Homo sapiens: one gene and its partner. The protein of the gene in region 2 purifies or fractionates together with the protein of the main gene of each other region. This does not show direct contact. Each region holds a gene or a part of one and is shown on either strand. Other genes may lie near its edges.

What was found. The genes of interacting proteins can lie anywhere in the genome.
Region 1: the proteins of RFFL (region 2) and NEFH purify together in Homo sapiens (affinity purification with mass spectrometry, with the first as the bait; one large-scale study listed by BioGRID). This does not show direct contact.

The regions. Positions count from the first base shown.
Region 1 is NC_000022.11:29,486,718-29,490,217, forward strand, and holds part of NEFH (neurofilament heavy polypeptide), read left to right. Parts: intron 1-2,131; coding exon 2,132-3,500. UniProt on the Homo sapiens protein: Neurofilaments usually contain three intermediate filament proteins: NEFL, NEFM, and NEFH which are involved in the maintenance of neuronal caliber. NEFH has an important function in mature axons that is not subserved by the two smaller NF proteins.
Region 2 is NC_000017.11:35,010,569-35,016,056, forward strand, and holds part of RFFL (E3 ubiquitin-protein ligase rififylin), read right to left. Parts: intron 4,196-5,488; coding exon 4,172-4,195; intron 1,582-4,171; coding exon 1,400-1,581; 3' UTR 1-1,399.

The DNA.
Region 1 (3,500 bases), on a different chromosome or scaffold from region 2:
TCGCTATGTTGGCCAGGCTGGTCTCGAACTCCTGACCTCAGGTGATCCGCCTACCTCGGCCTCCCAAAGTGCTGGGATTACAGGCGTGAGCCACTGTGCCCAGCCAATGAGTCTTGAGAGTGACTTACTTTCATTCTGAAATGATTTAGACGGTGGAAGTTCCTTATCCCCTCCCCAGATCCAGCCAGCCAGAGGCCTGCTTTGAAGGGAAAAGAGGTGCTTGAGTCAGGGACCTTTCAAACTCTGTCCTTTAGAGTTTCTTAGCTCTGCAAGCATTCATTTCTTGGGGATATAAAGTGGAGATGATAATAAGGGCAACCATGTCATAGGGTTGTCAGGAAGATGAGCTAATCCCATTCCCAAGCTAATCCAGGAAGCACAGGTACCACTGGGCTGCTACAGAGGGAACCCTTAGTCAGTGGCAGCCTTGAGAAATCCAGTCTGAGGAATAAGACCGGGGGGAGCAGGGCTAGGGAGCAGGACTGATTCCCTGAGGACTTGTCCCAGTTCTGACTGGTGACCTGTGGCTTCCTACCTCTTGGCTCTCGTCTGTAATCTTGCTACTCAAAGCATGGCACATGAACCAGCAGAATTGGCATCATTCAAGAGCTTATCAGAAAGATAGTCTCTTGGTTGGGTGTAGTGACTCATGCCTGTAATCCCAGCACTTTGGGAGACCAAGGCAGACAGATTGTTTCAGTTCAGAGACCAAGCTGGGCAGCATGGCAAAACCCCATCTCTACAAAAAATACAAAAAAAAAAAAAATAGCTGGGCATGGTGGCACATGCCTTTAGTCTCAGCTACTCAGGAGGCTGACGTGGGAGGATCACCTGAGCCTGGGAGTTGGAGGCTTCAGTGAGCTATGATCGTGCCACTGCACTCCAGCCTGTCATCACAGAGTGAGACACTGTCTCAAAAATAACAACAACACAACAACAACAAAAGACAGACGCTCAGCCCCTCCCCAGACCTGCTGAATCAGAATCTGCATTTTGATAAGATCCCCGGTCATCTGTGTGCTGCTAAATTTGGGAAGTACTAGTCTGAGGGGTAACCCCCACACTTACTCTGAGACAAGCATTCTGCCAAGTCTTTTCCATTCATTGTCTCACTGAAACAACCCTCTGACGTAGGGACTCTAATGACCCTCTTTTTCCAGTGAGGAAATTGAGGCTCAAAGAGTTGGTGTGTCTTGGCCAAGGTCACCCATCTAGTGAGGAGCAAAGCCAAGAGGAGAAACTGCGGCCTCTACCCTATTCCTGAAACTCAAAAGATGGTAATACAGGGTGATGAGAGACACTCGCGATTCAAATGGGAGCGTTCTAAGACCTCTTAAACCCAAATTTATAAAAGTAGAATTGTGGTCGGGTGCGGTGGCTCACACCTGTAATCCCAGCACTTTGGGAGGCCTAGGCGGGTGGATCGGCTGAGGTCAGGAGTTCGAGACCAGCCTGACCAATATGGTGAAACCCCCGTCTCTACTAAAAATACAAAAATTAACTGGACGTGGTGGCGTGCGCCTGTACTCCCAGCTACTCAGTAGGCTGAGACAGGAGAATTGCTTGAAGCTGGGGGAATTGCTTGAATCTGGGAGGCAGAGGTTGCAGTGAACTGAGATTGTACCACTGGACTCCAGCCTAGGTGACAGAGCAAGACTCCGTCTCAAAAAAAGGAAAAAAAAAAGTGGAATTGTTTGCTCAGGCTCCCAGGGTTCTCTTGAATAATATTTTAGTTTGAGGGACAATAAATTTAACTTTTGTTAAATTTATTTAGGAGCTTTCTCTTGAGGGCCATTTTTTATGGGGCAAAAGTTGTTTTATTTCAAAAGTTTCAGGCTTAGCTGTGTTGAAGAAGACCAGCTGTTCCAGCCTGGGCAACACAGTGAGACCCTCTCAAAAACAACAACATCAACAAAAAAAGACCAGTCCCACCGGGGTACACATTCTGGGTGGTCACTGGAATGATTTGCCAAGTGACTTTCTCTAGTCTCATAATGCCCACCATTCACATTCCTGTTCCACCAAAACCCATATCATTCGATGTCAGTGACCTTCAGGATAGTCTAGGAAGAACCCAAATAGTGAATTTGCCCTGAGTTTATACTAATGTGTTCCGTGATCCATCCTGCAGAAAACTCCTGGAAGGTGAAGAGTGTCGGATTGGCTTTGGCCCAATTCCTTTCTCGCTTCCAGAAGGACTCCCCAAAATTCCCTCTGTGTCCACTCACATAAAGGTGAAAAGCGAAGAGAAGATCAAAGTGGTGGAGAAGTCTGAGAAAGAAACTGTGATTGTGGAGGAACAGACAGAGGAGACCCAAGTGACTGAAGAAGTGACTGAAGAAGAGGAGAAAGAGGCCAAAGAGGAGGAGGGCAAGGAGGAAGAAGGGGGTGAAGAAGAGGAGGCAGAAGGGGGAGAAGAAGAAACAAAGTCTCCCCCAGCAGAAGAGGCTGCATCCCCAGAGAAGGAAGCCAAGTCACCAGTAAAGGAAGAGGCAAAGTCACCGGCTGAGGCCAAGTCCCCAGAGAAGGAGGAAGCAAAATCCCCAGCCGAAGTCAAGTCCCCTGAGAAGGCCAAGTCTCCAGCAAAGGAAGAGGCAAAGTCACCGCCTGAGGCCAAGTCCCCAGAGAAGGAGGAAGCAAAATCTCCAGCTGAGGTCAAGTCCCCCGAGAAGGCCAAGTCCCCAGCAAAGGAAGAGGCAAAGTCACCGGCTGAGGCCAAGTCTCCAGAGAAGGCCAAGTCCCCAGTGAAGGAAGAAGCAAAGTCACCGGCTGAGGCCAAGTCCCCAGTGAAGGAAGAAGCAAAATCTCCAGCTGAGGTCAAGTCCCCGGAAAAGGCCAAGTCTCCAACGAAGGAGGAAGCAAAGTCCCCTGAGAAGGCCAAGTCCCCAGAGAAGGAAGAGGCCAAGTCCCCTGAGAAGGCCAAGTCCCCAGTGAAGGCAGAAGCAAAGTCCCCTGAGAAGGCCAAGTCCCCAGTGAAGGCAGAAGCAAAGTCCCCTGAGAAGGCCAAGTCCCCAGTGAAGGAAGAAGCAAAGTCCCCTGAGAAGGCCAAGTCCCCAGTGAAGGAAGAAGCAAAGTCCCCTGAGAAGGCCAAGTCCCCAGTGAAGGAAGAAGCAAAGACCCCCGAGAAGGCCAAGTCCCCAGTGAAGGAAGAAGCTAAGTCCCCAGAGAAGGCCAAGTCCCCAGAGAAGGCCAAGACTCTTGATGTGAAGTCTCCAGAAGCCAAGACTCCAGCGAAGGAGGAAGCAAGGTCCCCTGCAGACAAATTCCCTGAAAAGGCCAAAAGCCCTGTCAAGGAGGAGGTCAAGTCCCCAGAGAAGGCGAAATCTCCCCTGAAGGAGGATGCCAAGGCCCCTGAGAAGGAGATCCCAAAAAAGGAAGAGGTGAAGTCCCCAGTGAAGGAGGAGGAGAAGCCCCAGGAGGTGAAAGTCAAAGAGCCCCCAAAGAAGGCAGAGGAAGAGAAAGCCCCTGCCACACCAAAAACAGAGGAGAAGAAGGACAGC
Region 2 (5,488 bases):
TGGTAAAACCCCGTCTCTACTAAAAATACAAAAATTAGCCTGGTGTGGTGGTGGGCGCCTATAATCCCAGCTACTCTGGAGGCTAAGGCAGGAGAATAGCTTGAACCTGGGAGGTGGAGGTTGCAGTAAGCCAAGACTGTACCACTGCACTCCAGCCTGGGCAACAGAGTGAGACTCAAAAAAAAAAAAAAAATGCTTTCTCCCTGACCTGCCCCCAAAAATCAGTGGGCTAGGAAAGGGAATGAAAGTAGGGTCTCCTCACTCCCCACCAACCTGGGAAATAAAGACTTGAACTGTCGGCTTACAACAGAATCCAGTCTCATTCAGTACCTCCTGAAAGCTCTTAAGTGCTCTGTCTTAACATTTGCTCTCCAGGAACTTCAACAGCAGTCTGGCCAGAGAAGAGCACAGGCTCTTTGCCTAAATCTATTTCTTCAATGAAACCAAATTTAAAACTACCATGGATAAGGGAGGGATTTCATTTTCAGCGAAAAGTGGCTTAAGACTTCTAGTTGGGAAAAGGATCAGAAGCCAAGCCAAAATTAAGGAGAAGGCCACTGCCTCCACCCATTGCTTCCCCTTTCCGCATAAACTAAGGATGGTGCAAATCAGGTCCCAAGAGAAGCAGCAGCAGGGATTATGCACGCACTATCCCTTGCAGACAGAAACAAATTTCCCAGCAGTTTGGGAGCCTGATGTTTTGTTGGCTCCCAGAGTCAGGTCAGGAGACCAACAGCTTCCAATCCCAGCATTTAATGAAGTGGCTTTTAACAACTTTGAAATTTTTCTATAGCATTTGTATTTCATTTCTCACCAAAGATAAGTTTACTGGTCTAAAATCTGTCCTAAGGACCACTATCGGTCTGGTAAACTAACATTTTTGGTCCAAAGAAACAAATGGATTTAGGCAATGTAGCAAGAGACTTTAGCAAAGATAGTTAAAGCACAGAAAGCCGGAGAGACCAGAAATTTAAATCCGAATGTGCTGGGGAGGAGGACTTCTGATTGATGAAACACATGGGCAAGCATCTCCCATATGGGGTGGGGATGGGTTGGGTACAGGAGGAGGGGTGAAACTGTCTAGGTTCAGGGAGGAAGACAGGACCCAAGTTCTGGAAAGTTCTCTGTTCATCAGTTACCATCATCACTCCAAGATCACTGAACCAAGAACATACCCATGTGATTTATACAAGTTCCCACTGGCCTTGGGCTTTGCCAGCCAAGAGGTACACCCCTGGGAAGACAGGCATGCTCAGGGGTGACATGGCATCTTGCTTGACCTGGTTTTGGGAACCCTGCAATATTTCTACTAGCTTGCTCCTCTGCAAGCTGGCCAACCCTGAGCCCAGACACCCCAGGCTATTTCCCTGTAAGGCACTGAAGAAACCGATGCAAGCTCTCAGGACCGGAAGACATGCACAGCTCGGATTACATACTGCCGGCAGATGGGACATTCATTCATGCGCTTGCCACACTTGGTACAGGTTACCATGTGGCCACACTCCAGAAGAACACAGTCAATGGGTGAGTCCATGCAGATCTTACACAGGTTCTCCTCCAAGCCTGATGGTACTGCTCCCCCTGTACAAACACACAGGGCAGAAAAAAAGGGGCAGAGGAGTGAGGAGAATGTCTTAAGTGTATAGGGGTGACTGGGGGAGGGAGGTGGGAGATAACAGGTACATTGTAAACAAAGTCTCAGTGCACATGCTTCCCTCAAATAGAGCTCCTCCGAGGAAACATTTCCTCAATAACCAACTCTGGTTACTTGTTTAATCCACACTTCATCCCCTCCAACAGGTAAAGATTTGAAAAGTACACAGCACTTGTGGATCAGACACATCCCAGAACATGAGAACTAAGGCAAAGTTCTCAAAGCTTAAAAGAAATAATTTTCAGACTGTTGGGGCTGTAATATAGTGAGTGTGTGAGTGGCACGTAGGGACTCATTATCCCCTGAGGCAGAACAGGCTAAAAAGATAAAACTGGTTCAGAAAAGTTTAGATAGAAATGGAACTGTGATGAATGGTTCATTAAGGATCACAAGGCTTTATCTATAAACATATCCTCCATTTAATAAAGTCAGGGATCATGGGGGACCCCTCTGCTATCTCACAAACTACTCCCAGGTTTCCTGAGGAAACTTCCTGGTGGAGAAACTTGGCAGAGATTACTGCTCCCTCTTTCTACCCCCACAAAACTTTTTTATACCCCCATGACTGCTTATCACATTGGATTAAAATTTTGAGTTTGCCTACTTACTCCCAGAGTAGACTATGAGCTCTTTAATTCAACATATTCAATCAATTTTTACAATTATATGCTTAGCATTTATTCCATGCTCCAAGGTTAGATATTCATCTTTGAAGCCCCCAATGCCAGTTATATGGTAGGTACTCTAAATGTCTGATGAATGAACATCTTCCCAAGGGAATGACAACATCCCACATTTACTGAATGCTTACCGTGTGCCAGGCAGGGTCCTGAAAGCTTTGCATGTGTTAACTCACTGAAGCCTCACAAAAACTATAAAGTAGGACCTCTTGTTATTTTCATTTTATAGATGAGGCCAACTGGGGCAAAAAAGTTAAGTGGCTTGCCCAAGGGCACAAAGCTGCTAAGTCGAGGAGCCAGGATTCAAACCCAGGCAGGCTGGCCCCACAGCTCCTGCTCTAGAATGGCCTTCTGCCTAACTGCCCTAAGAGTAGAAACTATCCAGACAGTATCAACTGCTGAGTGCACAGGGTTCTCAATAAATGCTAACTGGCTTGTGTCACTAGCAGAATATAGTGGGCATGACCAGTATCCTAGTAGAGCTGACCCAAACAGAAAAAATAATGTTCAAAAGCCCAGCCATCTCCAATATGTCTTAAATTGTAGCCTGAAGTAGGTACCCATAAAAAGGAACTGATCTCACAGAAGTCACCTCTACCATCTGGGGGTTGGCCAACCCATAGAGGAATTCTCCCTTATTGCATCTATACTTTCTCTTTTCTGGACTATTAAAAAGTCAAGAAATACTTCCCCCTAGGAGGTAGGCTGGGTGTGAAAGGGAGTGAAACCCATTTGCCTCTTTTGAGGTGCTGTTGGTCCTAACAGAGGTTTGGAGACTATACAAATACCTAAGATGAATGGGAATAATTTATAATTTTCAGTTACTCATTCTCTCAGAAGTAACAACAAACACATTAACTCAGTTGTCAGCATTCTCCCAGGGAATCAGAAAAAGAAAGGAAGCACCAAGTAGATCAGCCTGATCTTGGTACCGGTGATGCTGGGGGGTTGGAGGGTGGAGGTGGGTCTAGAACTCCAAATGGTTTTGGGGAATTGAGAAAAGCTCAACTGTTTTTTATGTCTGATTAGAAGTAATCAGACATAAAATTGCCCATTCTGAGCAAAAGGCCATTTTACTAAATAAATTTGGGAAATCTTCTGAAATAAGTTTTAAAATGCTGCAGGCTAGTCCAACACTACTCTTAGAACGTTCTCTCTTGGAAGGGAGTTCACAACCATATACCCTTGAGGCTTTTGAAAACACATAGCATATTTTAGAATGTCCCCACAGATGGTCAGGAGTTCTGCAGTGTGTTCTGGGAGTACCTGAGGGCCCAGTGGTGGTCTTTAAGTGAGTGGCAGCTGAGCTGAGATATATAGCTTGTGCCCAGAGAGTAGCACATGTGTTAGCTCCAGAGTAGCTCTAACCATTACCAGCCCTGTACAAACAGGGCTGTCTCAGGTCACCACCCTTTCTTTTTGGTTAGTACCAGAAGCTGCTAAACACCCTGATTCCCCAGAAGGTGTACACAGAGACCCTCCCTACCCAGACCAGAACTGAAAACACCAAGATTTTAAAAAATGAGCTGAGTGTGATACATGCCACCCCTCCTCTGTTTCAGTGTTTTACAAATGTTGGCTTATGAGCTCAGGTAGCCCAGGGACATGCACATCAGTCAGTCCGCCCCTACGTATGCTCCACTCTGCTTCCTGCACAGCGAGCAGAGAGAATTTCTAAAGATGGTGAGAGGCCCCCTGGGTCTCAGTGAGTTTCCCACACACCCTCTCTCTGGGGGCTCAAATGCTCAGAATTCTTAGATTACTAAAGGGATTGGGGTTGAAGGAGGGGAAGGACAAAAGGGCCTAAGCCCATTCCCAAACAGAAACAACTACATACCGTTTTGGTCTTCGGCACCACTGACTGAAAAGGAAAGAGAAGGATGTCTGAATAGGTAAGGCATGATGGTACAAATACAGTCTCTTACTGCCCTGACATCATTTCTGAACTCTTACCACTCCCTGCTGGGAACCAGGCTTGCCAAGAGCCTAGATGGACATCTGCCCTCTACTCGCTCTACATGCTCAGAACTCACACAAAGCTCCTACTCGTGCATCTGGTCTACTTTTATTTTTTATTTTTTTGAGATGGAGCCTCACTCTCTTGCCCAGGCTGGAGTGCAGTGGCATGATCTTGGCTCACTGCAACCTCTTTCTCATGGGTTCAAGCGATTCTCCTGCCTCGGCCTCCTGAGTACCTGGGGACTACAGGCACATGCCACCACTCCCGGCTAATTTTTTGTTTTTGGTGGAGATGGTGTTTCACCATGTTGCCTATGCTGGTCTTGAACTCCTGATCTCAAGTGATCCACCTGCCTCAGCCTCCCAGAGTGCTGGGATTACAGGCATAAGCCAACACACCCAGCCTGGTCTACTCTTAGGAAAAGGTATTCCACCAGTTTGCACAAACTGCCAAGTAGAAGGATACTGTATATGTGCAATATCCTTTTCTATTTTGAAGTCAGCATTAAAGTCAAGAAAGAATGAACTATCTAGCTGTTTCAGTCAGTCAGAGAATCTGGATAAAGTTCCCACGTGGAGTCATCTGTTCTGTTCCCCAGGTCCTGACGACTGGAGAGAAGACTCTTGAAACAATCCCAAAGGGAAAACAGACTCCATGTCAGTAGGCCTCAGTCTGTAATCGGGTGAAGAGTCAGTCAGATGACCCCTAACACTGATGAATTTGAGCTACTGGTAGAAGAGAGCCTGAAACCTGACTTCAACCACTCTTACCAAGCAAGGAATCAGTATGTTGCTCTGTAGGAACCAAATCAACTGGGGATGGGAGGAAAGGAGAAGATTCTGTGGTGAAATAATTTCAGGAAATGCTAAGTTCAAAACAGCCAAAACACATTTCTCTTCTGCAGGACTTCTCTGCCTTTAATATAAAAATCTACCATAAATCAGTAATGAAGATATGAGGTATTTTTCCCTAAACTCATTTAACCACAGACCCAGATATTTTCCTGGGCATCTCCTGAATGATACAGTGTAAAATGCTCTGGGAAATGAACAAAAGGAAGAGCCCAAGTGCAGATGGAACAGCTATCTTCTCCTGCCATGTATGTAGATTCACTTTCTACCTCCCAAATCTTCAGAACAAGCATTCTTATTCTAAGGTAAGAAAACTTACAAGGTGGTGGTGAGTAGGGAGGGG